Homo sapiens: one gene and its partners. The protein of the gene in region 2 purifies or fractionates together with the protein of the main gene of each other region. This does not show direct contact. Each region holds a gene or a part of one and is shown on either strand. Other genes may lie near its edges. The genes, in order: TRMT6, ZNG1A, ERF and AGAP1.

Region 1 (5,000 bases), on a different chromosome or scaffold from region 2:
TGCTATATTGCCAAGTACCCTAGTCCAGTGGAGGAACAGGATGGATGTTACAGAATGATTTTTGTCTTTGACTTCTTGATTGCCATTCATTAAAGTGCTATTCTACATAACTCCTCTGGTGGCTGGATGTCCAAAAATCATAAAATTATCCGTTCATCTGCTCCAAAGGTGAATGTCCATTTTAAACACAAGACAAAAACATCCTGTATTTAGCTGTACCCATGATGTGCATGCACACAGTCGTGGTTCCCAGTGGGCGGTTCCTGGACCAACAGCACCAATATCACCTGGAAACTACTTGAAATGCAAATGCTCTGTACCACTCCAGAAGTACTGAAATCTTATTCTGTGGGGTGGAGGGCCCAGTGGCCTCTGCTTACCAAGCCCTCCAGGGGAATCTAAGTTTTCCAATGCTAAGTTTGCAAACCACAGAATTCAATCATCTGTACGCAGATTAAGTAAACTATATGAATGAGAAAAAAAAAAAATACAGATTAACTTATGCTGTTGGCATTGGTAAGATGAGTTCACAAGGTAACATGAGCATGCAGGGCCTTGGTAGCTCAGACCCCAGACCCCTTGCTCAAGAAACTCAAGAGAAAAGATTTAGGGAACGGAATGCAACTTGCAAACCAGTAACCAGGAGACCAGCCACTACTGATTCTAATCTATGCAGTTTTCTGTTCTCCTTGTCCAAACTTGATTAGCTACATGTGTGTGTGACACCAGCTTGCAACACACTCCGTGAGGTGCCAATCCAGGCATGTCCTCTACAATAGACAGACCACGTCACAATCGGCCGAAAGCCCACAGGACATCACTGACTGCATCACTGTTAGAAGAATCACAGTAGGAAACATTTTCATTTTTATTTATTTTTTGAGACAGTTTCACTCGTCGCCCAGGCTGGAGTGCAATGGCGTGATGTCGGCTCACTGCAACCTCTGCCTCCCGGGTTCAAGCGGTTCTCCTGCCTCAGCCTCCCAAGTAGCTGGGATTACAGGCGTTAGCCACCACGCATGGCTAATTTTCTAATTTTTAGTAGAGATGGGGTTTCAACATGTTTGTCAGGCTGATCTTGAACCCCTGACCTCAGGTGATCCGCCTGCCTGGGCCTCCCAAAGTGTTGGGATTACAGGCATGAGCCACTGTGCCCGGCCGACATTTTTATTCTTTAATAGCAATTAGGATAAAGGACTCAAAATTGTACTTAGTAATCACATTGGCATAGCACATGCTATTTGGAAAAAAAATTTTTTTTCTGAGATGTTCCTTGCTGTATGATACAGGCCTATTCTATGACAGGAGCAACGCAAACGATGACCATGTTCCAGTGAGCAAGACTCAATCTCTCAAATGAACAAGAGCCTTGGCTGATTCTAAACACTTTCTTTGCTACAGCACATGATCAAATGATTAGAGTTTTTCAGAGCTTAGAAAGGGTAACCATCTAATCATGACAGAGTTCTTCAGCATTAATAATCAAGAAAGGCACTTTAGGGACATTTGACAAGGAATGACACTAATACAATGAGAATTGGTCTAAGTCCTGCACAAGACTTTGATACAGTTCAAATAGACTGCACACTCTTTCTGTCCCCATGTGTACATACATATTCATACAGGTGGTACAATCTATGTCTCCACTTGCATGTGTATGTATATATCTGTGTATATATAAATATATGTGTGTATATATACCAACATCTATATACATATGTGTGTGTGTGCAAATGTGTATCCATAAGACCATAGAGGGGGAAAAGACATTTGTTTCCTTTAATTGAATAGTACACAAAAATTCTAGTCACTTTATTTAGAACAAAGAATAAGAGTATTGGCAAATTAATGCAAAAAAGTACCCTACTAAACCTTTCTATGCACAAAAAAGAGCAGTAAAATAAATACTCAGAACTTTCCCAGGTTGTCAACTATTAAAATAAAACCTCAGCATTTCAAAAAAGCTTATTCCGCTGCAGGAAAGAAGGTGGACATTTTTGGTACCATAATAAATCACACACTCACACATCCATATTGCTTAGGTTGAAGAGAACGGAATGAACAGAGGAAATTTCTTCCATGAATTGCCCTCCTTTCGGTACCCGCCATGTTTTAGTTACGTTGTATTATTCCACTTAGCTTAAAATATAAAGTCTTGTAGAAACACATTTTTAGGATGTTGAAGTTCTCAAGATATTTGCACAGAATATTTAGAAGTACTTAGAGGAGTTTTGTTAAATGCAGTTGGTCATACTACATACCCCATGGTTGCAGTTTTGACAGACCAAATGCATCTGTGTCAGAAATAGACAAAAGGCATATACTCCTCCTTCCTAGAAACGGGTACATAGACATGTTCTTATTCTTGGGATATGAAAAAACAAGTAGTAATGGCATTTAAAGTTTAATTACTAACTGTATAATGCCTGAGAACAAAATTCAGAGCAATTCTCAAAAGGGTTAAGAGTCAGACTCTGGGCATTTTCGTTTTTTAGCTGCAGGCTCCTCAGTCTCGTGTGATTCTAAAGTGCTTGCATTAGATTTGAGGCTGGTGTCTGCTTTAAGGTTGTCCATGGCAACGGTGAAGCCGGAGAGAAGATAACCCCCACCTCCACTCATCAGCAGTTTAGGATGACTTCGATCTGGCAAAACCTAATCAAGACAGAAAAGACATTCATGCTTTCCTAAGACAATAAAGTCCATGCTAACAACACATATACCAAAAATCAGAATTTAAACAACACAGGTTCTCTTGATGATTTAAATGGACATTTTTTTTTCTTTCTTTTCTTTTCCCTCCCTCCCTCCCTCTCTCCCTTCCTTCCTTCCTTCCCTTCCTTCCTCCCTCCCTTCCTTCCTTTCTCTCTCTCTCTTTCTTTTTAAGAGGCAGGGTCTCACTGTTCCTCAGGCTGGAGTGCAGTAGTGAGATTTTGGCTCACTGTAACCTCGAACTCCTGGCCTCAAGTGAACCTCCCACTTTGGCTTTCCAAAGTGCTGGGATTACAGATACGAGCCACGGCACCAGGCTTTAAATGGACCAACTTCTAAGGACTAATTTCTTCACATTACAATGCAAAGAAAAGTGTAGAAATTGGTTTAATTGATTTTCTTTTGAAAAATAAAACTGGCCGGGAATGGTGGCTCACGCCTGTAATCCCAGCACTTTGGGATGCTGAGGCAGGTGGATCACAAGGTCAGGAGTTTGAGATCAGCCTGGCTAACATGGTGAAACCCCATCTCTACTAAAAATACAAAAATTAGCCAGGCGTGGTGGCACACAGCTGTAATGCCAGCTACTCGGGAGGCTGAGGCAGGAGAATTGCTTGAACCCGGGAGGCAGAGGTTGCAGTGAGCCAAGATCGCGCCACTGCACCCCACCTGGGCGACAGAGCGAGACTCTGTCTCAAAAATGAAAAAAAAAAAAAAAAGAGAAGAAAAAGAACTGAAGCAGTTTTCAGTTCAGCCCAGGTTTATCTAGAAACTGAAGCATGTTTCTGGCGGAGAATGGGTAATGGTCTTGGCAGTACTCTAGAACTGTGCATATAGCTTTCTTTCTCCTGGCTTCAGGAAGCTTCATGGCCAATAATGGAGCTTGGGTCTATGGAGAAGTTGCTACTGAATGTACTACACTCCAAACCTCCCTTCCCCGCTACCCTGTTAACTCTGCCAAGGCAACTTCTCTCCTCTTTCTCCTGTAACCTTAGCCAAGACAGACAACCTCCACAAAGGGCAGGGTTACCCAAGGCTCAATAGCATCCCCACTACAGTATGGTAAGACACCAAGCAATGAGACGGGGCCTACGGCAGCATGGAGGTGCTCCCCTCAGATCTCCCTTCATGAGGGAACAGCTGAGAGGCATTCAGGCAGTAGAACACCTCCAGCTGCCGCTCCTTTGGGATCCACTGCAGCATTCATACCGAGGGAGGCCATGGGTTGCTTCCAGTCAGTAACTGAGCATGGGTACCAGAGCTGGAGCATTTCTGCTTAACACAGGGCTCCTTGAATGGCGATCTTTCCACTTGGGCTCGCCATCAGCCTCATGGAGACTTTCTCCAGAGCAGCACTGCAGGCTCTTCCTACCATCCTCCTTTCTCTACCCGCTCCTTGCCCAGGCATCAACCTGCACCACCAATCTTGCTCCCTCTCCCCTTATCTTTCTAAGGCATTTCCCTCAATAAATCTCTTACACTTCAACTTCCATCTTAGCATATGTCTTCCAGAAGACCTGAACTGACACAGAGCCCACCAGTAAATCCTGAAAACTTGCTGCAAAAACATCCTGGCAGAGAGGAAAGGGCCAGTTTCTCATCCACCTGGGAATTTTGCTATTGTCAATTACATCATCCACAGTGATACTGAGGCCTTGGGGAAATAAGAACCATAATGGTTTGCATTTTAAATGCCTTTAGGGCAGAGTTACAGAGTAATATATTCTGACATAACAAGAGAAAAAAAGGGTCACAAAAAGTCAGGGGCATATTCTCTGAGTAACAGCCATGAGAAATCTCCATCCCTGTAGAAAGAAACAGAGACATCTCTATTTTTATTTTGTTTTGTTTTTGAGAGAGGGTCTTACTCTGTCACCCAGGCTGGAGTGCAGTGGTGGGATCTCGGCTCACTGCAGCCTCGACCTCCAGGGTTCAAGCAATCTTTCCACCTCAGCTCCTGAGTAGCTGGGACTACAGGCACCTGCCACCATGCTCGACTGATTTTTATATTTTTTGTAGATACAGGGTCATGCCCAGCCAATTTATGTATTTTTTTTTGTAGAGACAGGGTTTCACCATGTTGCCCAAGCTGGTCTTGAACTCCTGGGCTCAAGCGATCTGCCTGCCTTGGCCTCCCAAAGTGCTGGGATTACAGGCATAAGCCACTGTGCCTGGCTGAGATAACTCTATTTAATGACTTCTAGTACTACTGCAAGGAAAGTCAAGTCTCGGGAGGGCAGCTCTTGGGACTGGCTGTAAGAACACGTACCTGATAATTTCTGAGCCAGGTT
Region 2 (9,041 bases):
GCCAGGAGCTCAAGACCATCCTGGCCAACATGGCGAAACCCTGTCTCTACTAAAAATACAAAAATTATCTGGGCATGGTGGCGCACGCCTGTAGTCCCAGCTACTCAGGAGGCTGAGGCAGGAGAATCACTTTAACCCAGGAGACAGAGGTGGCAGTGAGCTGAGATTGCACCACTGCACTCCAGCCTGGCGACAGAGAGAGACTCCATCTCAAAAAAAATAAAATAAAATAAAAAATAAACGTTTTTTCATATGTCTAGATTTTTACTTCTGGAGTCATTTATTTCATGTAAAAATGTAGTTTAATTCTGTTAATAAGAATTCCAAAGTTATACAAAATAAAATTTTATTAAAACTAATTTCAGTATCTCAACCCATATAAATCTTAACAGAAATTAATCCAACTTTTCTAAAGCTATCCACATCAATACAATACCTTGCATTTTCATTTTTAAATATGGAATATCAATTCACCAGAGGAATAAACAGTCACACAAAATCTTGCAACATGACATTTATTGAACTTTACTTACCTTCCCCAAATTCATTTAAAATGACCGCTACTCTTTTACTATGTTGCTCTGTCAAAATATAGTTCAGAAGTGTTGTCTTCCCAGCACCTATAAAACATATTTTTTGTAAATAAAAAAATTCAAAATAATTTTAAAGATACAAAAAACATATAAAGAATCCTAACGTTTTTGAGAATTTGCGTGCTATTTTTCATATATTATTTTAGCATAGAATATCCTAGAGGATAAGATTAAAGCATCCTTCGAAACCTGTTGCAAAATACTTTATGTAGACATAAAATTTTATAAATATTTACAAACACTCCTACAAGTTGAAACAGCTTCTTCAACCTAGCCTAACCTTCCCTAAAATTTACACACAATCTTTTATTTATAATGACCTTTTATTTCAACATTAACAAGACGCAACTTCAGGCTGACTATATGGCTACTTATAGTATGCTTTAAACAATCTATAAAAGTTTTTATGAAATGGGGAATAGAGCCAGGTAGTGTCAACAATGGACAGAATGTTCAGTAAGATAAATTCATAAAGCTATACCAACTTTATCCAGCAGGTGGCATATAAAACCCAATATGTCAATCTCCAGTAGAAAAAAAATAGTCTTGTGAACCGTACACACTAAAATTCATAGAGGAAAAAAAGAAAATCCTAACTGCATAGTATTGTAGTTCAATTGTATGACTATATCATTTCTTTATCTTTTTTTTTTGTTGGACATTTGGTTTGTTTCCAGTGTTTTACTATTACAGTGCTGCTAAAAACTTTTACATGTAGGCTATACATGTCTTCTGAAATACATTAAGTTTTCTAGTATATAACTAGATCTTCCTATAACTAGGAAGATTTTACGGAGTATTAGGGTATTAATATCTTTTAGGTCATATTCCTTTCAAAGCTTTTTAACAGATGAAGGCTTATATTTAGAGTACTTTAGGAAGCTCAACATCACAAAAATATGAAGTATAGAATGGAAGAGAGAGACTTAGGGCAATGAGGAAAATCTTAAAACCAGTCCAAGCCTGAGACAGAGGCCCTGAACATGAGTGTTTCACAGGGCAGTGATGTGAAAACTGAAAGGAAAGGGTGAATGTAAGAAATCTTCTAAGAGAAGATTTACTAGGGCTTTTTAACCATATTATGAAAAAAAAAAACACTTTAAGACATAGCTCATTCATTCGAAGGTTTCTAATACGTTACAAATTTATGCTGGGCCTTGGTGAAAAAGTGAACAAGATAGTCTCTGCCTTCATAGAGCTTAGAAATATCAAGGGAAGGGGGGAATGGAGGGGAATTCAGTGAATAAGGAGGCAATTATGTCACAGGGTGACATATTCAATAGGAGATGCACAAATTGCTATGGAGAACCTAAGAGGGACATCTAGCCAGAGGAGTCACAGTAAAAAAGTACCTATTCCAAGGGGCTAAAACACTTGGCACCTTTGAAGTAACATTAGTTCATTGTGCGGGGCCAATTTGGCAGGCTGGAAAGGTTGGCAAGATCCAGATCCTACAGGTCCTTGTAATTCATGTTAAGGAATTTGGATTTTAACCCATAGGGATGCCACTGAAAGGTGTGACGCAGTCGGATTGACATTTATAAAGATCATTAAGGCTAACATGCAACGAATAAATTAAAGGGCAGCAAGACTCCAGATTAGTCAGGAGGCTTTTAGAGTATTCCAAATGGTTGGGATCACAGAAGCAGGATTTGGGGGGATGGTAACAGACGAAGTTTCAGACATGTTAAGTTTTAAGTTGTAGGACATCAAAATAGAAATTACACAGGTGTGTAGCTAAAGATGGACAAAGGGGGAAGGAGGAGGGAGCCTTAAAAAGAAGCCAGAGAAGCAGGTGGAAAAATCAGAAGAAAAATGTAGTAGAAGCCAAAAGAACAGCGTTTCAAAAAGGGAAAATGGTCAGGGATAGGAGTGAAACTATCCCTAGATTCAGCAACAAGGTTGCTGGTATTAATTCTCACTCCTGAGCTTCAGATCATTTTCTCCAGTGATCTACTGACCTACCAGTGAGCAATACGGGAAAGGCCCGAGCGGCACGTTTGAAATACATTGTTTTGGACAAGAAATTTGTTCATCTTCTCAGCAGAGCAGCCTCTGAATAACTGTGGGGAAACGCCAAAAATAAATTCCTTTATAAAATTACTTCCGAGCAAAAAACGGGAATAAACTTACAGTCTACAAAGTTTTTAAAAAAAACAAAAGCAGTTATTTCTTATTTTTACATAAAAGGTCACGAAGTGGCCCAAGTCTGTACCTGTCTCTAGCAACAACTAGGAATATTATTTCCCGGAAACAGTATTTTATTTATATTTCTTAACTTTTTCCAAACTTCTAATACAGCCATATATTTGTTCTAGCCCTTCTATTTAACTGTAAGGTTTAAAAATATATTTCTCAAACTTTTCCAGTAAGAAACTTCTAGTGTAAGTGCATAAACCGCCCTTCACGAAACTACCAAGTTCACAAACTTGTGGTTTCGAGTATCCCTGTACACTCTAAACGTTCTTAGTTTGAGAAATAGTCTTGGAGGACAGAGATTTTATTCTTACTTCCTACGCAGTGGTTTACAAACAGACCTCAAAAAAAAAGTGTTTAAGATAGGAGCGCTCCCTGCCAGCTGGCTGGAGGACTCTGGCTCGTGGGGAAGGGGAATCTACTGACGAAAGCCCCACGTGTCGGGCATTTTACAGACGGGACATCCTTTAATGGCAACAGGTAGGTGGTTCCGGCCCTGTTTCACAGGTGACAGGTATTTCTCCATTTTCAGGTGAGGTAGATGAGCGTCAGGAAGGTAAGATAACTTGGTAAGAGGTCACAGAGACAATTAGGGGGGCGTGTCTTAGCGTCAAAGCCTTGCTTCAAAGGCTAACTTTCCATCTCACTTGAGAAATGGGAATCTAACGCAGAGGGGGCCGGGCATCATTAACTCCCAAGATGAGAGGCAACCCATACGAGAAGCAAGTGACCCAGCCCCGACCTCGAAGACATTTGCTCTTGATCATGAGGCCCCAATGCCTCAGGAGAAGAGGCACCGGCAGCCCGCAAAATCCCATGACACCAGAGGTCACGCCATTTTGTGACTGGGATGGTTAGTTACCTAAATACCCGGTGATAATTGTGACTGGGATCTTGGCGCCGAGGCCAGACTTTTCCTCCTCCTCGCTTTGCGTCGTCTCAATGGGAACCAATTCAGGACAATCCTCCTCCGCAGGATCCTCCTCCTCATCCGCAGATCCAACAGCCGGTAACATTCCGGCCTACAGCACGTCCCTACCTCAGCTGAACCGCTGGGACCAACACGCCGTACCGCAGCCGCGCACGCCCAGCACGCCACTCCCGGCCTGCCCGGGGCCTGACGTCATCACATCGCGACGCTCGCTGATCCCGCCCGGATTACCTGGGCTCTGGACGAGAAGCGCCTCGCCCCTTAGCCACACCCCCCGGGGAGGTGGGCTCTCCCCGACGACAGCTGGACACGCCCCTGGGCGTGTTCTGTGAACCTGAGCGACGCTGCGGAGAGTCCCTAGGGCGCACTAACCACCTGTCTGAAGGTGTCACTGGCGCCTAGAGCCTTAATAAGCTACTGGCTGTAGGTAGAGCTGAGGCCAGTCTGCTGGAAATCTGGAGTGGGTAGCCTGACCTAACCAGTTCCCACAGGGCATAGATTTTATCACCTTGATTTTTTAGTCTCGTTAAAAAAAAAAGTTTTAATTCATAGGGGAAAGAATGGAAGGTTATAACATTATAATTTTAATTGTAATTTTTATACCTGAAGGATAACCAGTGACACTTTTTTCTTTTTTTATTATTACATATTATATATGTAATTCCAAATTTTTAGTATTCATGCATCACTTTTATTTACTTTTTTCTCATTATTTATTTGGACCTCAGGTAACCTAAGTTCATTAATCATATTTGCTGGTGCATGACACTCTCATCACTAATCCATAGATAGCCCTTCTTTCTAATATAAATTTATAGTGAACTCCTTTGACGTCATTCCTAACGTAAAAGCATTACCAGTAAGTTACACGTACCTATGTGCACCGCCCCTGCTTCCAATCCACAGCCTGCCCCATAAGATAGTAACAACAGTCATGAATTGGTTCTGGATTGCTGATCATTCCCTGTTTTCTTTTTAATTTTATCACATATCCCACGTACGTACTTAGAGAATATGTTGTTTAATTTTGGGTGTTTTTGAGCTTCATAAAATTATCCATATAATATATAAACTCCTGAGGCTTGCTATACTTTTCAGCATCACTGCTGTCTTGTATTCTATTGTGTGGCTACACGGCAATTTATTCATTTCCTCTCAATTGTTCCAGGTTTTGCTCTTATGAACAGGGCTGCTATGAACATTTTTCCTGATATATGTGTGTGCAACTTCCTCTTGAGTGTCTGTGTAAGAGTTGAATTGCTGGGTCCTAGATTATTCAAATGTTTTACTTCACAAGAAAATGCACAATTATTTTTCAAAATGTTTGTACAAATTGATACATTTTCCCAGCAAATTATAAGAGATCTCATTGGTCTGTAGGTCAATATTATCAGGCATGCATTTTTCACCAATCAATTGTGTACAAAAGAAGACTTCATTGTGATCTTCATTTGCATTTCCTTGATTACTAACAAGGTTGAGAATCTTTTCATGTGTTTTGGCAATATTTAATTCTTAGAATGACCCTGTAGAGTGTTATCCCTCTTTCAAACATGAGGCACCAAGAGTTAAGTTACTTGTCCAGGTTAGGTCATAAAAATCTATCTGATGCACAAGTAGAATGTTTTACTACTATCCTGATGCCAAATAAAAGGTTGACTTTTCCTTCCTTCTCTGAAATTCCCCATAAAATATACTGTGTGTATTCCATTAGTTCTACTGATAAGGACATATAACTTGAAAGTATTTATCACGCCTTTTGCAGAACACAGTTAAGACAGAGGGTTTATATTTGTGCAAATGAGTATATTATATTCACACATACACTCGGTCTGAGAAATCAGGTCTTGAATGCTTTGCCAGCTTTGACAATGTAACCATGAACCAGCTGAGGAAGAAATAAGGCAAATACCTTAGGCGTGGTGGTTCAGTTCACTTTATTCTACCAAAGGAGAGAAGCTGTGATGGGTAGCCCAAAATAGATAGCTTACACCCTAAACACAATGGTTCATAAGCTTTTTCGTTTCAGGAATGCTATGAAGTATTGATTTTTTTGGCAACCTAAGGGAAGGAGTAACATTGCACCCACAGGCATCACACTATTTGCTTGATGTCCCTTCAGCACTGCATTACTGCCTGAATAGCAGCTATTACAGCCCTCACCACCTTCTTTGACATATTTTTTAAAGTACATTCTTGTGGGTTCCCAATATGGCACTGGCTGAATGTTATACTAAAATCCCTCTTTCTGTTTTTTGAGACAGGGTCTCACTCTGTCGCCCAGCATGGATTGCATTGGCACGATCACAGCTCACTGCAGTCCTAAACTCCTGGGCTCAGGTGATCCTCCCATCTCAGCCTCCCAAGTAGCTGGGACTCCAGTCATATGCCATTACATCTGGCTAATTTTTCTTTTTCCTTTTGGTAGAGACAGGGTCTCACTATGTTGTCCAGTCTGGTCTAAAGTCTCATCTCTAACAATGAGCAGCCTGTAACCTATGAGGCCAGCTCAGTCAAGTTGACCAAATAGCATTGTTGTAACAGTATGTAGCCTCAGTGACAGCAAAATAAGTTTTACACATTGGCCAAAAATTAAATGCACCACAAATATCTATCAACTGATAGACAACTAAAATGTGACAAATGGATAAACAAAATATGATCTATCCGTACAATGGAAAATTATTTGGCAATAAACAGGAAAAAGGACTGATACCTGCTACTACATGAACCAATCTTGAAAACATTATGGTAAGTGAAAAAGGCTATTCACAAAAGACCACACGTTGTATGATCCCATTTACATAAAATATCCAAAATAGGCAAATCTATAGAGACAGAAAGTGCATTAATGGTTCCCAGGAGTGGAGGGCTGGGGAGAGACTACAGTGGTTTTTGGGCAGTGATGAAAATGTTCTAAAATTGATTATGGTGATGGTAGTACAACTCTGATTATACTGAAAACCATTGACTTGTACACTTTAAATTGGTGAACTGTATCATATGTGAAATTTATCTCAATAAAGCTGCTATTCTTAAAAGAAATAAACACCTATCTGTGCATCAAAATGGGGTGCCTGTGTACATTTGTAGAGAAACACTGTCTTCAGCAGTTTCAAGTTCTGGCCTCAGGCACAAGTATAAAGATTACAGCTTGATAAAATTTTTCCTTTAGTCTGTTCCATATTCCTCTTCAGTTAAATTTTTATCTATGGATTCTGTGGAGTCCTGTCATTTTATTTTCTCAGATAGAGTTGTAATTTCAGTTCTCCCAAAATAGCTGGGCATGACTTTTTATTTTTATTTCTTTTTTCTTTTTGAGATGGAGTCTTGATCTGTTGCTGAGGCTGGAGTGCAGTGGCACGATCTTGGCTCACTGAAACCTCTGCCTCCGGGTTCAAGTGATTCTCCTGCCTCAGCCTCCTGAGTAGCTGGGATTACAGGTATGCACCACCACGCCCAGCTAATTTTTGTATTTTTAGTAGAGACGAGGTTTCACCACGTTACCCAGGCTGGTCTTGAACTCCTGACCTCCTGATCCATCCACCTCAGCCTCCTAAAGAGCTGGGATTACAGGCGTGAGCCACTGTGCCGGGCTTTTTTTTTTTTTTTTTTAACTTATAAGAGGGTTAAATTGTTAAATTGTTAAATTGAAAATGCCTTTTTAAATAAGTATGAAATTTCTTAATTATAATATTTTAGAATCTATTACAGTTTCTGATGTAACTTAAAAATTCCTCCTCATTTAGCTTTGCTATTTTGTCTCATTTACTTTACGGTAAAACAACAACAACAACAATAGTAATGTGTGGAGCCCGTAAGCATCTGATAGGCACTGTGTGAAGCACATTAAATGCATTATCCCATTTAACTCTCCAAGGTAAATACTATTTGTGTGCCCATTTTATAGATGAGGAAATTGAGGCTTAGAAAAGATAAATACCTTGCTCAAAGTCATACAATCAGTAAATGGCAGCCCTTGGGCTCAATCCAAACCTGCCTGACACTAAATCTCCTGCTCTTTTAAACCAGAAGATCTGCAAACTTTTCTGTAAAACTAGATGATAAATATCTTAGTCTTTACAGATCAAAAAGCAAATTTGAGGACATTGTGTAGGTACTTATATAATATAAGAGAGAGAGCAAATGTCTACAAGTTTGAAATTTGAATTTCATGTATTAAACAAAATTATGAGAGGCCATTGTTTTGGACTGAGCTCCTGCACTAATCCCAAGCAGACCAGACCAAACCAAAATGGAGTCACTCATGGTAAGCACCACAAAATCAAACTAAAACGTTAAAAAACAGGTCCCAAAATAGACGAGTTTTTTTTCTTCTCCTGAAGACAGAAGATTCCAGTATAATAAGGAAGTCCTCTCTGCTCTATCCCTTACAGAAAAGTAACCCAAAGTAACAACAGATTACTTACAAAAAAGCAATCTCAGCCAGACACAGTGGCTCATGCCTGTAATCCCAGCACTTTGGAAAGCCAGGGCGGGTGGATCACCTGAGGTCAGGAGCTTGAGATCAGCTTGGCCAACGTGGCAAAACCCCATCTATACTAAAAATACAAAAATTAGCTGGGTGTGGTGGCACACGCCTGTAGTCCCAGCTACTCGGGAGGTTGAGGCAGAAGAATTGCTTGAACCCAAAAGGTGACGTTGCAGTGAGCCAAGATTGTGCCACTGCACTCCATCCTGGGTGACAAAAAAATAAAAAAGTAATCTGATGTTAACCAATCAGTTTTTTTTTTTTCTATACTGTTTCCTTGTTCCCACCTTACAAAATCCAGTGTTCTGCTATTTTCCAATGGGATTAGAGACCAAATAACTCTATTTATGATGATAAAAAGTGATGTCAATGCCTAAAGTTTTGGGCAACCTCAAAATTAATCATCCTCTCAAAATTGACAGGTTGACCAAAAGGAGGAATTGTTAAATTCATTGTGGCCTAAAGCTGCCTCCTTACATATTTTAAGTTTACCCTAAAGGTTTCCCAGTACATAAAAAACTATATTTCAACTTGATATGTAAAACTTGATATGTAACCTACTCTTGTAACAAGTAGTGAGTCTCAGCCAATCACAGCAGCTGAACTTCAGCCAACCACAGGCAGCCAACTCTTCAAACCAGGTTCAAATAAGGCAAATGCTCAGCTGTAACCAACCCTACTCTGGTTCTGGGGGCTGCCTAATTCACAGATCATTCTTTACTCAATTAAACTCTAAAGTTTTCCTTTCAACATGTATAATTTTCACATCACGAAATAATAATCTTCTTTAATTTTTTTTCCAATGTATTAAAAATGTAAAAACCATTTG
Region 3 (8,063 bases), on a different chromosome or scaffold from region 2:
CAGGCTTGGTGGCTCACGCCTGTAATCCCAGCTCTTTGGGAGGCCGAGGTGGGCGGATCACCTGAGGTCAGGAGTTCGAGACCAGCCTGGCCAACATGGAGAAACCCCATCTCTACTAAAAACACAAAATTAGCCGGGCGTGGTGGCGCAAGCCTGTAATCTAGGCTACTCGGGAGGCTGAGGCAGGAGAATTGCTTGAACCTGGGAGGAAGAGGTTGCAGTGAGCTGAGATCCTGCCACTGCACTGCATCCTGGGTGACACAGGGAGACTCCATCTCAAATAAATAAAAAAAAAAATAAATAAATTTTTTGTAGAGAGAGTCTCACTCTGTTGCCCAGGCTGGTCTTGAACTCCTGGCCTCTTGAAATTCTCCTGCTTCGGCCTCCCAAAGTGCTGGGATTACATGTGTCAGACACAAACTGCAGCCAGCCTGTTTATTGCTGTTTACTCTAACTGTTGTTACAGTTGGAGTCTGTAGGGTAGAGTGCTCTTGTTATCCATGGGGCATAGAGTTCACTCTGCTAATAATTATTAACAGTATTTATTGCATACTTACTTTGCATCTCTGATTTTTCTTTTTTTCTTTTTTTTTTTTTTTTAAGACGGAGTATCGCCCTGTCACTCAGGCTGGAGTGCAATGGCATGATCTCGGCTCACTGCAACCTCCGCCTCCCGGGTTCAAATGATTCTCCTGCCTTAGCCTCCTGAGTAGCTAGGATTACAGGCGCCAGCCACCACGCCCAGCTAATTTTTGTATTTTTAATAGAGACGGGTTTTCACCATGTTGGCCAGGATGGTCTGGAACTCCTGACCTCAGGTGATCCACCTGCCTCGGCCTCACAAAGTGCTGGGATTACAGGTGTGAGCCACCTCGCCTGGCCACATCTCTGATTTTTCACAATAACTTGATCATGTAGGATCTATTAACACCTCCATTTTACAAATGAGGAAAATTGAGGCTCAAAGAGGTGAACTTGGCCAGGCGCAGTGGCTCACGCCTGTAATCCCAGCACTTTGGGAGGCCAAGGAGGGCGGATCACGAGGTCAGGAGATCGAGACCATTCTGGCTAACACGGTGAAATCCCGTCTCTACTAAAAATACACAAAATTAGCTGGGCGTGATGGCGGGTGCCTGTAGTCCCAGCTACTCGGGAGGCTGAGGCAGGAGAATGGCGTGAACCCGGGAGGCGGAGCTTACAGTGAGCCGAGATAGCGCCACTGCAGTCTGGCCTGGGCGAAAGAGCGAGACTCCATCTCAAAAAAAAAAAAAAAAAAAAAGAGGTGAACTTCGCTAGGCAGGGTGACTCACACCTGTAATTCCAGCACTCTGGGAGGCCAAGGTGGGCGGATCGTTTGAGCCCAGGAGTTGGAGACTATCCTGGTCAACACAGAGAGACCCCAACTCCACTAAAAATAAAAAAAAATTAGCTGGGTTGGCTGGGCATGGTGGCTCACGCCTGTAATCCCAGCACTTTGGGATGCTGAGGCGGGTGGATCATCTGAGGTCAGGAGTTCAAAACCAGCCTGACCAACATGGAAAAACCCCGTCTCTACTAAAAATACAAATTAGCTGGGCGTGGTGGCGCATGCCTGTAATCCTAGCTACTCGGGAGGCTGAGGCAGGAGAATTGCTTGAACCCAGGAGACGGAGGTTGCGATGTGCCAAGATGGTGTCACTGCACTCCAGCCTGGGCAAGGAGAGCAAAACTGCGTCTCAAAAAAAAAAAAAAAAAAAAAAAGCTGGGCATGGTGGTGGGCGCTTGTAATTCCAGCTACTCAGGAGGCTGAGACAGGAAAATTGCTTGAACCAGGGAGGCAGAGGTTGCAGTGGGCCAAGATCGTGCCATTGCACTTACAGCCTGGGTGACAAGAGCAAAATTCCATCTCAAAAAAAAAAAAAAGTAACTGGGCATGGTGGCATGTGTCTGTAGTCCCAGCTACTCAGGAGGCTGAAGTGGGAGAATTGCTTGAGGCAGGGAAGTCGAGGCTGTAGTGAGCCATTATTGTGCCACTGCAATCCAGCCTGGGCAACACAGTGAGACCCCCATCTCAAAAAAAAAAAAAAAAAAAAAAAGAGGTGAACTGAGTTCACTTGCCTTGTCAGAGACAAGAAGTAGCAAAGGTTGGGTGTAACAGCCAGGTGTGGTGGCTCACACATGTAATCCCAGCACTTTGGGAGGCTGAGGCTGGCGGATCACGAGGTCAGAAGATTGAGACCATCCTGGCTAACACGGTGAAACCCTGTCTCTACTAAAAATACAAAAGATTAGCCGGGCGTGGTGGGGGGCGCCTGTAGTCCCAGCTACTCAGTAGGCTGAGGCAGGAGAATGGCGTGAACCCGGGAGGCGGAGCTTGCAGTGAGCCGAGATGGGGCCACTGCACTCCACCCTGGACGACAGAGTGAGACTCCGTCTCAAAAAAAAAAAAAAAAGGTTGGGTGTAACTCATCTCTGTCTTGCTGGTGGGAGGGTAGGGGTCACTGGGTTTGTTACTGATGTGTTATCTTTTTGTTTGTTTGTTTGTTTTGAAACTGAGTTTCGCTCTTGTTGCCCAGGCTGGAGTGCAATGGCGCGATCTCAGCTCACCGCAACCAACCCCCTCCCGGGTTCAAGCGATTCTACCTTAGCCTCCCGAGCAGCTGGGATTACAGACATGCACCACCAAGCCCGGCTAATTTTTTGTATTTTTAGTAGGGACGGGGTTTCTCCATGTTGGTCAGGCTGGTCTCGAACTACAGACCTCAGGTGATCCACCTGCCTCGGCCTCCCAAAGTGCTGGGATTACAGGCGTGAGCTACCGCGCCCAGCCTTTTTATTTATTTATTTTTAGACGGAGTTTTGCTGTTACCCAGGGTGGAGTGCAGCGGAGCGATCTCGGCTCACTACAGCCTCCGCCTCCTGGATTCAAGCGATCCTCCTGGGTTCAAGCGATTCTCCTGCCTCAGCCTCCTGAGTAGCCGGGATTACAGGTGCGCCACCACGCCTGGCAAATTTCTGTACTTTTAGTAGAGATGGGGTTTCACCATGTTGGCCAGGCTGGTCTGGAACTTCTGACCTGAAGTGATCTCCCGCCTCGGCTCCCAAAGTGCTAGGTTTACAGGCGTGCGCCACTGCGCCGGGCCCTGATGTAGTATCTTTGAAAATCTGCATTTTTTTTTTTTTGGAGGGGGTAGTAAAAGAGGTAATAAAGCATAATGGTAAAGGGTAAATGTGGTGGTTTGGAATTGGTTAGATCTGGGTTCGAATCTTAGTTCCAATACTTCCTGGCTGTAAGATTTAGTGGACTGATTTTCCCTCAGAGAGCATCACTTTCTTTATCTGTAAATGGGGATAACAGCAGTAATTCCCCTCGTTGGGATTTTGTGAGGATTAAATGAGAAGATGCCCCTGACAATGCTTGGCCCGGTGCCTGGCACATCATGAACACTCGGAATTCGGGAGCTGTTATTCGAACAATGAAGATGATTATTATTGCTGGACCACACCGCTCCCAGAGGGTTACAATATCCGTGGGGGAGCTGTACTGTCCGTAGGCAAGGTTACATAATTCCCGGGGGTTGTGGGGGAAAGCTTCCCTGGAGCCCTTGGTCTCCCCAAGGAGGAGGCCTGAGACTTTTTTTTTTAGGCACTGGTGAGGAGCCTGTCTAAGGTGGACTAGGTACCCCGCAAGCGAGGAGGCTGGGATTGAAGCCCTGGGTACCGGGAGCCTGAGCTCCGCAGGCCTTCCCTATCTGTGACTTTTCTGTCTCCCCGCCCATCTTCTGGATTCGTCCCCCACCCAGCCCCCCCAACTCCCGCCCGCCACCCATACGCCCCTCCTTCGGAACCTCAGAGTCTTTTTTGAGACTCTGTTTCCAGGCTATGCCTGTGAATATTGCTTCTATTTGGCCTCTACCCTGCTGCCGGCTCCTGGGCTCCATCAGATCTGCGCTGTGATTTCCTGTTTCCCAGAGCCTCAGGCTTCATCCTTCCCTCCCGGCTGAGGCAGAGAACGGAGACTTAACACTTCTCTACGCTCTGGCTTTCGATCTTAAGCCCTGTCTTCCTCTCTCCTGGCGACCCTCAGTGCCCCTTGGGAGCACATTTGTTCAGACTTTGGTCGCCCCCTCGTATCCCGGCCCCGCCTCCGGAACCCCCGGTCCTAGTAGTGGACGTGGGGGGACCTCCGGCGCCAGCCCTATCCCCGGGACAGCTGCAGCCTGGGGACGGTGGTGGTGGGGGCTTCCAAATGCATTCTCTCTGGTCACTTCCTCCCCAGCTGGACGGGGGTTATCAGGGAAGCCAAGACCCCATCCCCACAGGAGCGGAGGGCACAGCCGCCTCCCCATTTCCGATGCTGGGAAATGCATCCCACCCATTCCACCCCACCCCTGGACAGCTGCCCCCATTCAGGCTCAGGGTTGGGGGGTTGGGTAAAACCAAGCTGGGAAATGCTGTGGTCTTCATCATCTTCTAAGGTCCTGACCCCGCCCCTCTGCAGAGAAGATTCTGCCCCCTCCCCACAAAAGTTTCTGACCCCCGCTTCCTCGGAAGGGCCCCCCGTTTTCCCATACAGGCTCCCAAAAGAAACTCTGGAGCCCGCAGTGGGCAGGAGAGGAGGAGGGGCAGCAGGTAGCGAGTGCCGAAGACTTAAGTTAGCTGCAGACTCGGAGCCTCTGACTAGGGTCATGACCCGCGGGACCCCATCCCACCCCCACCCCCTCCTTCCTCCCTCCCCCGCCGCGCGGCCCCTTTAAGCCCAGAGCCGGCCGGTCCTCAGTGGCTGCGCGCCGACGAGCGTGTGTGTGAGTGCGCGGGGAGGGGGCGGGCGCAGTGTCTCCATGGCGACGCGGCGGTGACGTCGCCGGCCGGGGGGCGTGGGCGTCCCGGCCCCGGAGTGCGATATTAACCCGGGAGGCGGCGGCGGGGAGGGGAGAGGCTCTGAGAGGCGAGGCCGGGTGAGGCGGCGAGGGCGGCCCGACGGGCGCGGGACGGGACGGGGCAGCGAGGGCGCCGGGAGCCGCGGCCCGGAATCGGGGCGCTTCGCCCCGGGCCCCCCAGCATGAAGACCCCGGCGGACACAGGTGGGGGCGGGGGCAGCACGTGTGGGGGAGACTTGTTGCCCCGGGAAACCGAACGGAGAAACTTTGGGGGGGCTGAAGGGGTCCGGGGGAGCCCGAGTGATCCCCAGTTCTGGGGGACCCCTCAAGCACTGGAGACCTGTTGCTTCTCGTGGCGCGAGCGGGGTTGCTGCCTGGGACCCCCGATTCCTGGCTCCGGGCGGAGTGGTGTGGGTGCTGCGGGTCTTGGTCCTGTATCCCTACCGGGACCCCGCAGGCCGGGCTCTCCCCCACTCCCGGGATCACGGGGGTGGCGGGGTCCTTCCCCTCCGCTCTTGTCACGTTGCACTCTGGGGGCCGGGACGTGTGCGGGGCGGGGGGGCTCGTCCACCGGGCCCGCTATCCCTGGTTCTGCGCTGCGCGGTCCTGCTGGTGACCTTCACGGCGGCGCGTGCCCTGCACCAGGTTAGCGGGGGATACGGGATGGCCTCTAGGAGGAGGGCGTGAGTGGGGAGCCCGGGACTCGGGGTCCTGGCTGCGCCGCCCCTCCCCCGCCCGCCTCTGTCGGCTCCTCGCTCCCCCGCCCTCGCCGAGTCGCAAAGTTCCAAAGCGCAGCCCGAACGTTCGAAAAAGGAACTTTTTGTTTCCGACCTTAGAACGCGCGGCTTTAAGGTGGCTCCGGGGAGACCTGGGTACCCTCCTCCCGCGCCACCGGTGGCCCGGGGTTGAGGAGGGTGGGGAAGGTGGGGGGAGACGCAGAGGCTCCCCCCTCGCCCCCCCTCCCGGATCCACCTCTTCTCTTTCAGCGGGCCGTCTCTTCCCTCCGCCCCTCTCTTCCCCGCCAACTTGCTCCTCCTTAAGGGGCCAAGGTTCCCCTCCCCCTCGGTCGGCGGGCGGGGGGCAGCGGGATTAACTCCCCCTCCCACTCGGACTTTTCCCCCTCCCCTCCCCCGCCGCCCCCGGGCTCGCGCGGGCTGGACTTTGCGCCCGAGCGCGCAGGGGGAGGGGTCCCAGCCGCCCCCTGCCCGTCTACCCCGTCGGAATCCGGCCCGGGGCGGGGACGGGGGAGGGGGAAGGGGGCCGGGCGCCGCTGTTCAAACTTGTTTCCTTCCCCCGGCGGCGGCGGCGGCGGCGGCGGCGGCTCGGGCTCCTGTGTGCGGGTGTGTGCCCCGACCGGCCCACCCACCCCACCCCATCCCCACCCCATTCCCACCCCATTCCCATCCCCATCCCCCTGCTCGGCGGGTGGGGGCGGCTTAATCTTAAAGGGCTCCGAGCTGGGATCCGGCGCCAGGGGATTGGGACCCGGACCGAGGAGGGGCCCTGGGGGTGGGGCCGGGGTGCGGAGTGCGGTAGGGTCAGTCACGTGCGTCCTACACACTCCCCCGGCTTCCACTCGCTCCCGGGTGGCTGGGCCCTGGGGGCAGCAGGAGCCTACCCTCGCCCAAGGAGGAGGCCGAGGCACCCAGACAACCTCGCTTCATCTTCTCTCCCTGCTACCGGCCTTGGCCTGATAGGATCCGCGGGTCGCTTCCCCAACCCTGTCGGGGGGCGGGACAGTGTGTGGGTTTTCCGGCTGGGGGAGGGGAGGGGAAGGAGGCCTGGAATGGCCTCCGATCGGTGCATCTTTCCCGTCTGCCTCCTGGCCTGCCGCTCCGCACCCCTCCATCCAGTTCTCCATCCCGGTCCCTCTCTCTGCCGTGGCTGTTTCCCACTTCCTGTTTTCTTCCCGGCTCTGGCGCCATAGAGGGCCGCCTGGAGTGGGGGAGGTGGTGGGGCCCCCCAGGAGGCCGGCGTGTTCTTCCTCTGCCACCACTCCTCCCTTCCGACCCTCATAGTCCCTTAAAAAAAGTTTGGGCCGTCACGTGAGGTTGGGGGGTGCCCAGGAGTTTTGTCCCCCCAGGCTTGCATAGTCTGTCTGGGAGAATCCCTACCCCGCCTCTGTGGGACCCAGGTGTGCTTCTGGGACCTCGCCATCCCAGCCCTTGCTGTCTGACTGCTGCCACTTCTGCACTCTGTCTCGCAGTCTCCTGAACCCCTCTCTCCATGTGCCTGCTCTCTCCCTGCCTCACTGGCCCCCATGTTCCCGAGGTCCCGCACCCCCAAGCTTCCTCCGTGCAGGTCTGGTGTTTCCCTGTTTTAAGCACGTGGACGCATACACAGCACACTCACACATGCTCCCCTTGCCCGTGCCTGGCTCCTGGCTCCAAGGCCTGGGGAACAGAGCCCCATTGAGACACCCTGACGTCACCCCCTCTTCATTCTCCCCCCCCCAAAGCCGGGAACAGGCCTTCATGTATGCTGTGTCCGATGAGGAAAGCCGCCGTTGTGGTGGGCTTGGGAGTGGGGAAGGGTCCCTGCCAGAAGTGGGAGCCAGGGTCCAGGCCCTGGAGGAGGGGTTGCTCAGGGAAGGGGTTTAACAAGGGGGCCTGGGACAGCTCCCAGAATGCGGCTTGAGGCCTTTCCAGAGCCCCCCCACCTCCTTTCCGAGTTCCCTTTGTGTTGCATGTAGTCTCTCTCACTCCCTCTCTTCTGCAAAGTTTATTTTTAGCCTCCTGCTCCCCCGCTCCCAGGACTGTCGCTGCACACACGTTGCCTGGTTACCGGGACACGGAGGCTGGGGCGGGTGGGCTGGGAAGGGTGGCTTTAATTTTGGGGGGAGGGTGGAAGTCAGTACATCCCCCACCCCCAGATTGATGTCTCAGGGGCTTTGGCCCCCCTTCTAGGTCTAGAGCCAGATTGGGGCTGAGGTGGAAGTAACATGGAGCTTGGTTCCCTGAGAGGGGCTGGGAGCTTTTTGGAGGGGATATGAGGGTCCATGAAGCTGGTGGCTGGGTCACCTGGGTTCCAAAGGACCCTGGGCCTTGCAGGAGACCTTGTGATCTGGATTCTCTAGAAGGGTGAGGATAATGGGTTGAACACCTAGATTCCCAAGAGAGCGATGGTGCTCTGGGGTCTCTGGAAGGGGTTGTCAAAGGCTGTCACTTTTAAATGGAACAGGGGCTGTTGGTGCTGGTCTGTGAA
Region 4 (8,194 bases), on a different chromosome or scaffold from region 2:
TCTAGCGGTGCTGCAGAGTCTTGAGTTTTCAGTATCTGTCACGCTCTTTTTTGAGAAACCAGAAACCATCATCAGTAGCCACAAAGTACAGGAGCTGCTCGCCTGGGGTCCTTCCTTTGGGTCAACATAAACATGCCTTACTGTTGGTTTCCTCTTCTATTTGTTAAGCTTCTCATCTCATCCTGTCCTCTCCTTCTTAGCCCTCCCCACAGATGTGTAGCAGGGTCCCCATCCTCTGTAGACCCCCCAGGAGGAGACCATGTATTACACTGGCCAGGTCGGGCAGCCCCATCTCAGCCAGGTTGTGATGCTGGGGCCGGGGCGGGCAGGCATCAGCATCATCCACTCTCCACACCTCCGACCCCATCCACCCCCTCCCCAGCTTTGTCCTCTCCTCTGCCTCTGGGCTCAGCTCTGGCTTCTGGGAGCTACCTGCCTGTTTCCCAGGCCCTGGAACAGTTTCCCCCAAAAAACTCAGCCATTCCTGACATTCTGTCCTTTCCACTTAAGCCTTCCCCAAGTATCTGGAGATTCCAAAAGCTGCATCTCCCTGCTAAACCTCCTCATTGGAGTCTCCACCCTCTCCTGCGTGAGTCTGTTGCCATGTTTTCCTCAGCTGAAAGGGTTTGGAGACCCTGGGGAGTCCACACACACCCCCTATTTCGGAGTTTGAAGCTAAAAGCACATGGTCACCCCCAGGTGTGGGGAGCGCACCGGCTGTCCCTTCCCCCCACCCCCGGCCCAGCTCCAGCCAAGTGTCCTATAGCCCTCACTTACAGTCCTGCTTACAGTAAAGCAACTCTCGGCCCCAGAGACCATGCTTCCATCGTGCGGTCCGTGCTCTCGGCCCCGGAGACCGTGCTTCCATCGTGCTGGTCCCAGGCAGTAGGGTGGTTTCCCCTGTGCATCGGTGTGTGAGAGCCACTGATCCAAGGCCATGGCCTTGAGCCCTCACTTGGTAGTTTTCTTTCCAAGGACAGCTTCTACACTAAAAGTGACAGAAGCAGCACCAAGGCAGTGTATGAGCCTGAGATCAGCGGCTCTCACACCTTGGGCCTATTGGAATCCCCTGCAGGGCTTCTTAAAACACCCCGAGAGGTTTGGATTCAGGGGGTCTGGGGCGTGACCTGAGAATCTGCATTTCTGGGCTGATGCTGCTGGTGAGGATACTGTTTTGTGAAGGTGGATAAACGTTTCCCCCAGGGGGCTTTGTGCCGAGTGAAGACCTTTGCTTTCTGTTATTTCACTTCCCTCTCGGCTTCTCCCGACCACACTGGGCAGGGGCTGGCAGCCTGTGTTCTCGGGCCTGATCGTGACTGCACCTGTCTGGTGGCTCTTTGCAGGGAAGAGAAGGAACGGTGGATCCGTGCCAAGTACGAGCAGAAGCTCTTCCTGGCCCCGCTGCCCTGCACGGAGCTGTCCCTGGGCCAGCACCTGCTGCGGGCCACCGCCGACGAGGACCTGCGGACGGCCATCCTGCTGCTGGCACACGGCTCCCGGGACGAGGTGAACGAGACCTGCGGGGAGGGAGACGGCCGCACGGCGCTGCATCTGGCCTGCCGCAAGGGGAATGTGGTCCTGGCGCAGCTCCTGATCTGGGTAGGTGGTCGGCACGCCTGGCAGAGGACGGGGCCACAGGAGGCACTCTCTGCTTTGTTCTGCTTCCGTGGGCATCTTTCTGGCAGAAGGCTGTTGTTCTCGATCTGCAAGTGGAAACAGTTCCTAATGGGAAACTCTGATTGAAGAGCAGAGGGCCTTACGGAGAGACAGCCGGTCCTCCTTGTACAGTACTTGCTAGAGTTTCTGAAAATTGCAACTTTGTGATTGCCCCTTATCAAGCAGGGTTGGTGCTATCCCTCTTTTTTCATTTCCATCATCTTCTGGAGAGAAGGCGGTGTATTAACGGGATGGCTTGTAGGGTTTCCCCATTTCCAAACCTTTGGTGTTTTTATTCACTTAACACAGAAATACTGGACCCTAAACTTTGAGGTCTGATGTGGCAGGAGTTTGTCAAAGGACTTCTTTCGAACCATTCTGATTAATTTCTACTGGGGAAAAGTATTATTTACATTCCTATTGAAGCATGTGTCACAATGCTTGAAGGAGTGAAAGAGAAGGATAAAGTGGTTGTGCAGAGAGGCCCTGCCTGTGCCACCCAGGAGCTACGTCTGAGAAGCCACGCCCACTTAGGGGCTGCCTGTGGACCCCTGGGGCTTCTGCTGAGGCAGGTTCCCACCAGAGGCAGGCAGAAAGCTGCCGGCAGGGAGGCTCCCCAGATAGGGAAGGCAAGTGTGTGCCCAGAAGTGGAGACAGCACCCAGAGGTGGGACACCCAGCTGGAGGCTCTTCTGTCTCCACCCGCAAGGCAGGATGGGTCAGTCCAGCACAGCAGCACGTTCTACAGCAGCATGGGTAGAGTGCAGCAGGTTTCTGCATGTTTTTGATCTGACTTTTTTGTTTTTTGTTTTTTTGAGACAGAGTCTCGCTCTGTCACCCAGGCTGGAGTGCAGTGGTGCGATCTCAGCTCACTGCAACCTCCGCCTCCCAGGTTCAAGCAATTCTCCTGCCTCAGCCTCCCAGGAAGCTGGGATTACAGGTGCGCACCACCACGCCCAGCTAATTTTTGTATTTTTAGTAGAGACGGGGCTTCACCATGTTGGTCAGTCTGGTCTCGAGCTCCTGACCTCGTGATCCACCCGCCTCGGCCTCCCAAAGTGCTGGGAGTACAGGCATGACCCACCACGCCCAGCCTTGATCTGACTTTTTTGATGGGTGCAGTTGGTGAATGAGTGAGATATAGACACTACACCAAAATCACACAGATACTCCCTTTTGCTCATGAGTCATACATGTGATGTAATGCACATTAAATAAGAGTTGTGTGTAGTGTGCTAGGGCTGCCATAACAAAATACCACAGACAGGGGTGCTTCAACAACAGACATTTATTTTTTCACAGTTCTGGAGGCTGGAAGTACAAGATCAAAGGGCCAGCAGGAATGGTTCCTGGCGAGGCCTCTCTCACGGCTGGTAGACGGCCGCCCTCTCCCTATGTTCTCACAGGGCCTTTCCTCTGCACTCGCTCCTGGTAGCTCTCTCCTTTCCCCCCACCCCCTTCTTTTTGGGACAAAGTCTTGCTCTGTCGTCCAGGCTGGAGTGCAGTGGCACAATCATAGCCCACTGTAACCTCAAACTCCTGGGCTCAAGCAATCCCCCCACCCTAGCCTCCCAAGTAATTGGGACCACAGGCATGCCACCCCCATGAATGGCAGTTTTTAAAAAATTTTGTAGACTTACGTTCTTACCATATTGCCCATGGGTTTTGAACTCCTGCCTTTAAGCAGTCCTCTCACCTCGGCCTCCCAAGGTGTTGAGATTACAGGTATCAGCCTCCCAGCCCAGCCTTTTCCTCTTCTCATATAGATACTAACCCTATTGTGACCTCATTTAAGCTAATACACCACCATAAAGGCTCTGTCTCCAAATACAGTCACATTCTAAAGTACTGGGTGTCAGGACTTAAACATGTGAATTGTTGGTGGGAGCGGGGGACACAGTTATAAATTACAGGCCATCTTTGCTTCTCCAATTGAGCAAAAATTCCTTTGATGGCGCTGGTTCCATGCTGTTGAGTGGCCTCAGACTCCCACACATTGTGAGTTGGCAGAAGTGGAAGTGAATTCACTCTTTTTCATGAGCAAAAAGCTTAAAAACGTTGTGTACTTTAACCTCATATTTTCCCCCTTCTGATCATCACTCTAATAATCAATCACAGATCCTAAGAAAGATTCTATGTGAGGACATACATCCGGGCACTGTTTCTTCCAGTGACAATTTTTTTTTTTTTTTTTTTTGAGACAGAGTCTCACTCTGTCTCCCGGGCTGGAGTGCAGTGGCACGATCTCGGCTCACTGCAACCTCTGCCTCCCGGGTTCAAGCAATTCTCCTGCCTCAGCCTCCTGACACTAGCTGGGATTACAAGCGTACACCACCATGCCCAGATAATTTCTGTATTTTTAGTAGAGACGAGGTTTCACCATGTTGGTCAGTCTGGTCTCAAACTCCTGACCTTGTGATCCGCCCTCCTCGGCCTCCCAAAGTGCTGGGATTCCAGGCATGAGCCACCGTGTCCGGCTCCAGTGACAATTTTTACAAAGTGTGCACAGTTGAGGGGAGAGTTCTGAATTCTGTTCATGTGGTGGAATACTGTATGACTTGCATATGTCATGCTTTTTGAGGGGTGGGGAGACAGGGTCTCACTCTGTTGCCCAGGCTGGAGTGCAGTGGTGTGATGTCGGCCCACGGCAGCCTCTGCCTCCTAGGCTCAAGCGATCCTCCCACCTCAGCCTCCTGCATAGCTGGGACCACAGGCATATGCCACGTGCCCAGCTAATTTTTTTAAAATGTGTTTTTTTCTAGAGACAGGGTCTCCCAGTATTGCTCAGGCTAGTCTTGAACTCCTGGGCTGAAGTGAACCACCGCACCCAGCTTGTGTTGTGCTTCTGAGTAATTTTTAATGATGTAAGAAAATGATCACAGTATAGTAATCAATAAAAAATGAAAAAAATACAAATTATTTGTACAGTCTTATCTCAATTATGTACATATACATGTAGATTCAAAGAAAACTCATTGAAAGGAAATACACTAATTCACAAAGGTTATCTCTAAGTAGTAAGATTATGGGTGATTTTTTTTCTTCTTGAGCTGTTATGTGTTATTTGTGTATTTCCTATAATGAAAATTCTGAGATCAAAACAATGATTTTCTTTGTGCAATTGGAAAGTCAAAATAGAAACAGCAAAACTAAAGTTATCTTTGATTCCTTAATGTTGCACAAAGGAGGGGCTTTCAGTTGAAAAAAAAAGACATGTTCTTTCCTTAAAAGAATCCGCTGGCCACGGGTGCAGGCTGTGCCACCAGCACTGGATGGTCCTGGCACCCCAGCCAGTTGTGTAGCTGGCCCCGCTGTCCAAGCACAAGCCACATGCAAGGGCTGAGAGAAAGCTTCCCTGCCCCCTCCCTCCATCACATCCCCCATGATACTAATGTGGGCTCCCTTACCTCCGCAGTACGGAGTGGACGTCACGGCCCGAGATGCCCACGGGAACACAGCTCTGGCCTACGCCCGGCAGGCCTCCAGCCAGGAGTGCATCGACGTGCTGCTGCAGTACGGCTGCCCCGACGAGCGCTTCGTGCTCATGGCCACCCCTAACCTGTCCAGGAGAAACAATAACCGGAACAACAGCAGTGGGAGGGTGCCCACCATCATCTGAGGAACAGCCGTGCCCGCCTGCTCGCCGCACCTGGGACGCGGCAGCCTCGCCGCATTCTCGCTCAGAAGTCGCAGCACGTGAGTCCCGTCGCATCCCCTCCCTCTTCCTGGTGGCCACCTCCCTCCCGCCCACCCACTCTCACCCCAAACAAAATCACAAAACCTGGACATCCCTCAAGGGGCGAAGAGGCGGCCGGGAGACTGCAGAAGTGGCTCCTTTTCATAAACTCCCCTAAACCACACACAGGAGAGAGCGACGGGCCTCGGCCCTTTGATGATAGCACATGGCGCAGGACCCTTGTCCTGGTGGCACAAGGGATGGGGACGCGAGGGGGAGGGGAGGCGAGGAACAAGGAGAAGGGGCAACTTTCCTTAACTGGCAGTTGAGCACATAGTACATTTCCCCTCTACCAAACGGAACACTTGGATTCCATCTCTTCTCTGAGGAGCTCGACGGCATAAATCAGAAGCAAGCACAGAGTTTGTCAGGTTTGAAGCCCCTATGATGGTGTGTGTCAAATCAGTTGTAGCTAATCTGTCCAGGGAGAATACTGGCTTCATTACACTTGTACAGCCGAGTTCTTCCCGCATTACTGCTGTTTAATAGAACGTGATTAGTCATCGCCGAGAAGAAAGCATATTAGCCGAGGAGGTAGTCACGCGGCACGCGCCGGTGATTGCCACGATGTGATTGCAATACTCTTAGAAGCACCATATTATCCCAGACATGTTCTTTCAAGCCCTTGGAGCCCTCTCTAAATTCACTGTCATCATTTAGTATCTGTTTAATTTTTCAGTCCAAAGAGAGGAAATCAGTCGCTGAGTATTATTTGACTCCGGTCTCCTTGGTGCAAAAACAAAATGGGAAAAATAAATAAGAATAACTCAGAAACTCAAAAGGAAACCACAAATTCAGCTAATAATAGCATTTCGAGTATATTTCGTAAACTAAGGAAATACACAAAAGGCTGTTTTTTCCGACTGTAAGAGATATTTGATGTCCTTTTGCCGAGGTGGATGTGTTAGTCTCAGGCCCTCCTGGACCACGTTGCCCAAGTCACACAGGCTTCTGTGTTATGTATTTAGATAAGATGTGTGAAAATATATTTGAATAAAAGAAGTTCATAAATATGCATTGATTTTTGTACAGACAAATGGCACCTCTCTTAATTTATAAATTGAACTGGATGTGAACTAATAATGTGCAACTAGTTGAGATAAGAGGGTTACAGATCATTGTACATGGAAAATATTCCCAGCAGTAAACACTTCCATTAATGTGATCTACGGCTTTTGAAAAGGAGCATCTCAGAATAAGATGGTGGTACAATTTGCTTATTAAAATTGAGAAAGAAAAAAAAAGACACACTGGAGTATATTAGAAAGGAAAAAGAAGGAATGTGGTCTCTCATGATTGAAAGCATGATTTAGATCGGATACGGCTTTTGCTAACCAAGGACCAAGGGACTCTGGCAAGATGGGGTGGTTTTCCGAATGCCAGACCGAGGTGCCTTACGAAGGCAGCTGCCAATGGTTCTGTGGCACAGACTGGCTCCTGAGAACCCAGACGACCTTGACCTGGCAGCCCGGCCCTCCACGCTAGTACCTCGCCTGATTTTCCATCGTTGCGGTATCCAGCCGCTTCAGACGTCCGCCGCCTTCAGTGGTGGTAGTCAAATGTAGTCAACCAAACCACAGCATCCCTTAGGTTAAAAGCAAACGGGGCAGCTTTGCCTAGAGCTCATTGACAGTGTGATGGGGGGAGAAGGGTTGTCACAATGGAAGATGAGGACACTAGACTCATGTAGCACAGAAACATGAAGCCACACGCACCGGCAGCCTCCGGGGTGTTCCTCGCTCTCTCGTATGTTAAACCTTATATTTTATAAGAGTTTTTCCTCTTATTTCACTTTTTAAAAAAAATTAAAGTAGGTGGGGAAAAAAATAAAGCTTTACACAGAATTTATATGTGGGTAAGTGTTTCATGGAAATTTCTAATCTTAACGAAGCTAAGTGGAGCTCACTCGTATCCAAAAGTATAACAGGTGCAGAAGCCACAAGTCTGAGAACCTTGACGACAGTTCCATCGTCCTGCCATTTGATTTTTCAGTCTGCGTTTCATCACTGTGTAGCTATTGTAAATGTGAATAGAAAAAAACAGGTCATTGCCTATTTTTGAAGAACGCGTTGGTGTTCGAGTCCACTAGACACACTCGCTCCACACAGCCTTCACCGTAGACTCTGTAGTGGACACAGATATAGCATAAATGAAATTGTTAAATTATTTCATTGTAGTTAATTCCCACTATAGGAATGCTTTATCATAGTGAAGTTTCTTTTGAGAAGAAACGGAACTCCTTGAGGCTTCTCTTTGGGATGTATATGAGCGTGTACATATTATTCTATGTGTTTATAATATAATATTTTCCCAAATGACTTCTTGTTTCACTTTGCCTTCCACAACCTGAATGCCAGATTGGTTTTTTCCCTTCCTGGCCCCCAGCACAAGCTGCCATGACTCCCCCTCAGAAAACACAGCCCCTCCTCTACCATTCTCAGTGATGTCCATCTGCTCCACTCCGCAGCCACTTTCTAGGGCCCAAGTTTTGGTAGCAGAAGGAAAGGCAGTTTTTGAGGGTCTTTCGAAAAAAAGAAGACGGGGCAGCTTTGCCCAGAGCTCGTTGGCAGTCTGTTTGTATTTCAGTGTCTAACCAGAAGTCCTTTCTTTGCGGACCGCACTCTCGTTCCCACTTTCAAGCTAATTACCACCAAGGCTGGGAGAGGCAAGGACTGGGGGCGGAGCTAGGAATAACTCGTTTGAGAAGGGGGTGGAGTTTTCGTTGTTCATTTCCATGTTCAGTTCTGTGACGTGACGATGACAGATCACCACTGCAGGATCCCCCTCACCTTTCCTGTTCAGA

What was found.
Region 1: the proteins of ZNG1A (region 2) and TRMT6 purify together in Homo sapiens (affinity purification with mass spectrometry; 3 studies listed by BioGRID and IntAct, with this or other methods). This does not show direct contact.
Region 3: the proteins of ZNG1A (region 2) and ERF purify together in Homo sapiens (affinity purification with mass spectrometry; 3 studies listed by BioGRID and IntAct, with this or other methods). This does not show direct contact.
Region 4: the proteins of ZNG1A (region 2) and AGAP1 purify together in Homo sapiens (affinity purification with mass spectrometry; 3 studies listed by BioGRID and IntAct, with this or other methods). This does not show direct contact.

Annotation. Positions count from the first base shown.
Region 1 is NC_000020.11:5,936,075-5,941,074, forward strand, and holds the end of TRMT6 (tRNA (adenine(58)-N(1))-methyltransferase non-catalytic subunit TRM6), read right to left. Parts: coding exon 4,979-5,000; intron 2,653-4,978; coding exon 2,461-2,652; 3' UTR 1,154-2,460; downstream 1-1,153. UniProt on the Homo sapiens protein: Substrate-binding subunit of tRNA (adenine-N(1)-)-methyltransferase, which catalyzes the formation of N(1)-methyladenine at position 58 (m1A58) in initiator methionyl-tRNA.
Region 2 is NC_000009.12:175,165-184,205, forward strand, and holds the start of ZNG1A (zinc-regulated GTPase metalloprotein activator 1A), read right to left. Parts: upstream 3,893-9,041; 5' UTR 3,806-3,892; coding exon 3,652-3,805; intron 2,657-3,651; exon of another isoform or gene 2,605-2,656; coding exon of another isoform or gene 2,559-2,604; intron 621-2,558; coding exon 534-620; intron 1-533. UniProt on the Homo sapiens protein: Zinc chaperone that directly transfers zinc cofactor to target metalloproteins, thereby activating them.
Region 3 is NC_000019.10:42,251,978-42,260,040, reverse strand, and holds the start of ERF (ETS domain-containing transcription factor ERF), read left to right. Parts: upstream 1-4,912; 5' UTR 4,913-5,041; coding exon 5,042-5,063; intron 5,064-5,405; exon of another isoform or gene 5,406-5,504; intron 5,505-6,141; exon of another isoform or gene 6,142-6,199; intron 6,200-8,063. UniProt on the Homo sapiens protein: Potent transcriptional repressor that binds to the H1 element of the Ets2 promoter. May regulate other genes involved in cellular proliferation.
Region 4 is NC_000002.12:236,118,849-236,127,042, forward strand, and holds part of AGAP1 (arf-GAP with GTPase, ANK repeat and PH domain-containing protein 1), read left to right. Parts: intron 1-1,343; coding exon 1,344-1,599; intron 1,600-5,070; coding exon 5,071-5,274; 3' UTR 5,275-8,194. UniProt on the Homo sapiens protein: GTPase-activating protein for ARF1 and, to a lesser extent, ARF5. Directly and specifically regulates the adapter protein 3 (AP-3)-dependent trafficking of proteins in the endosomal-lysosomal system.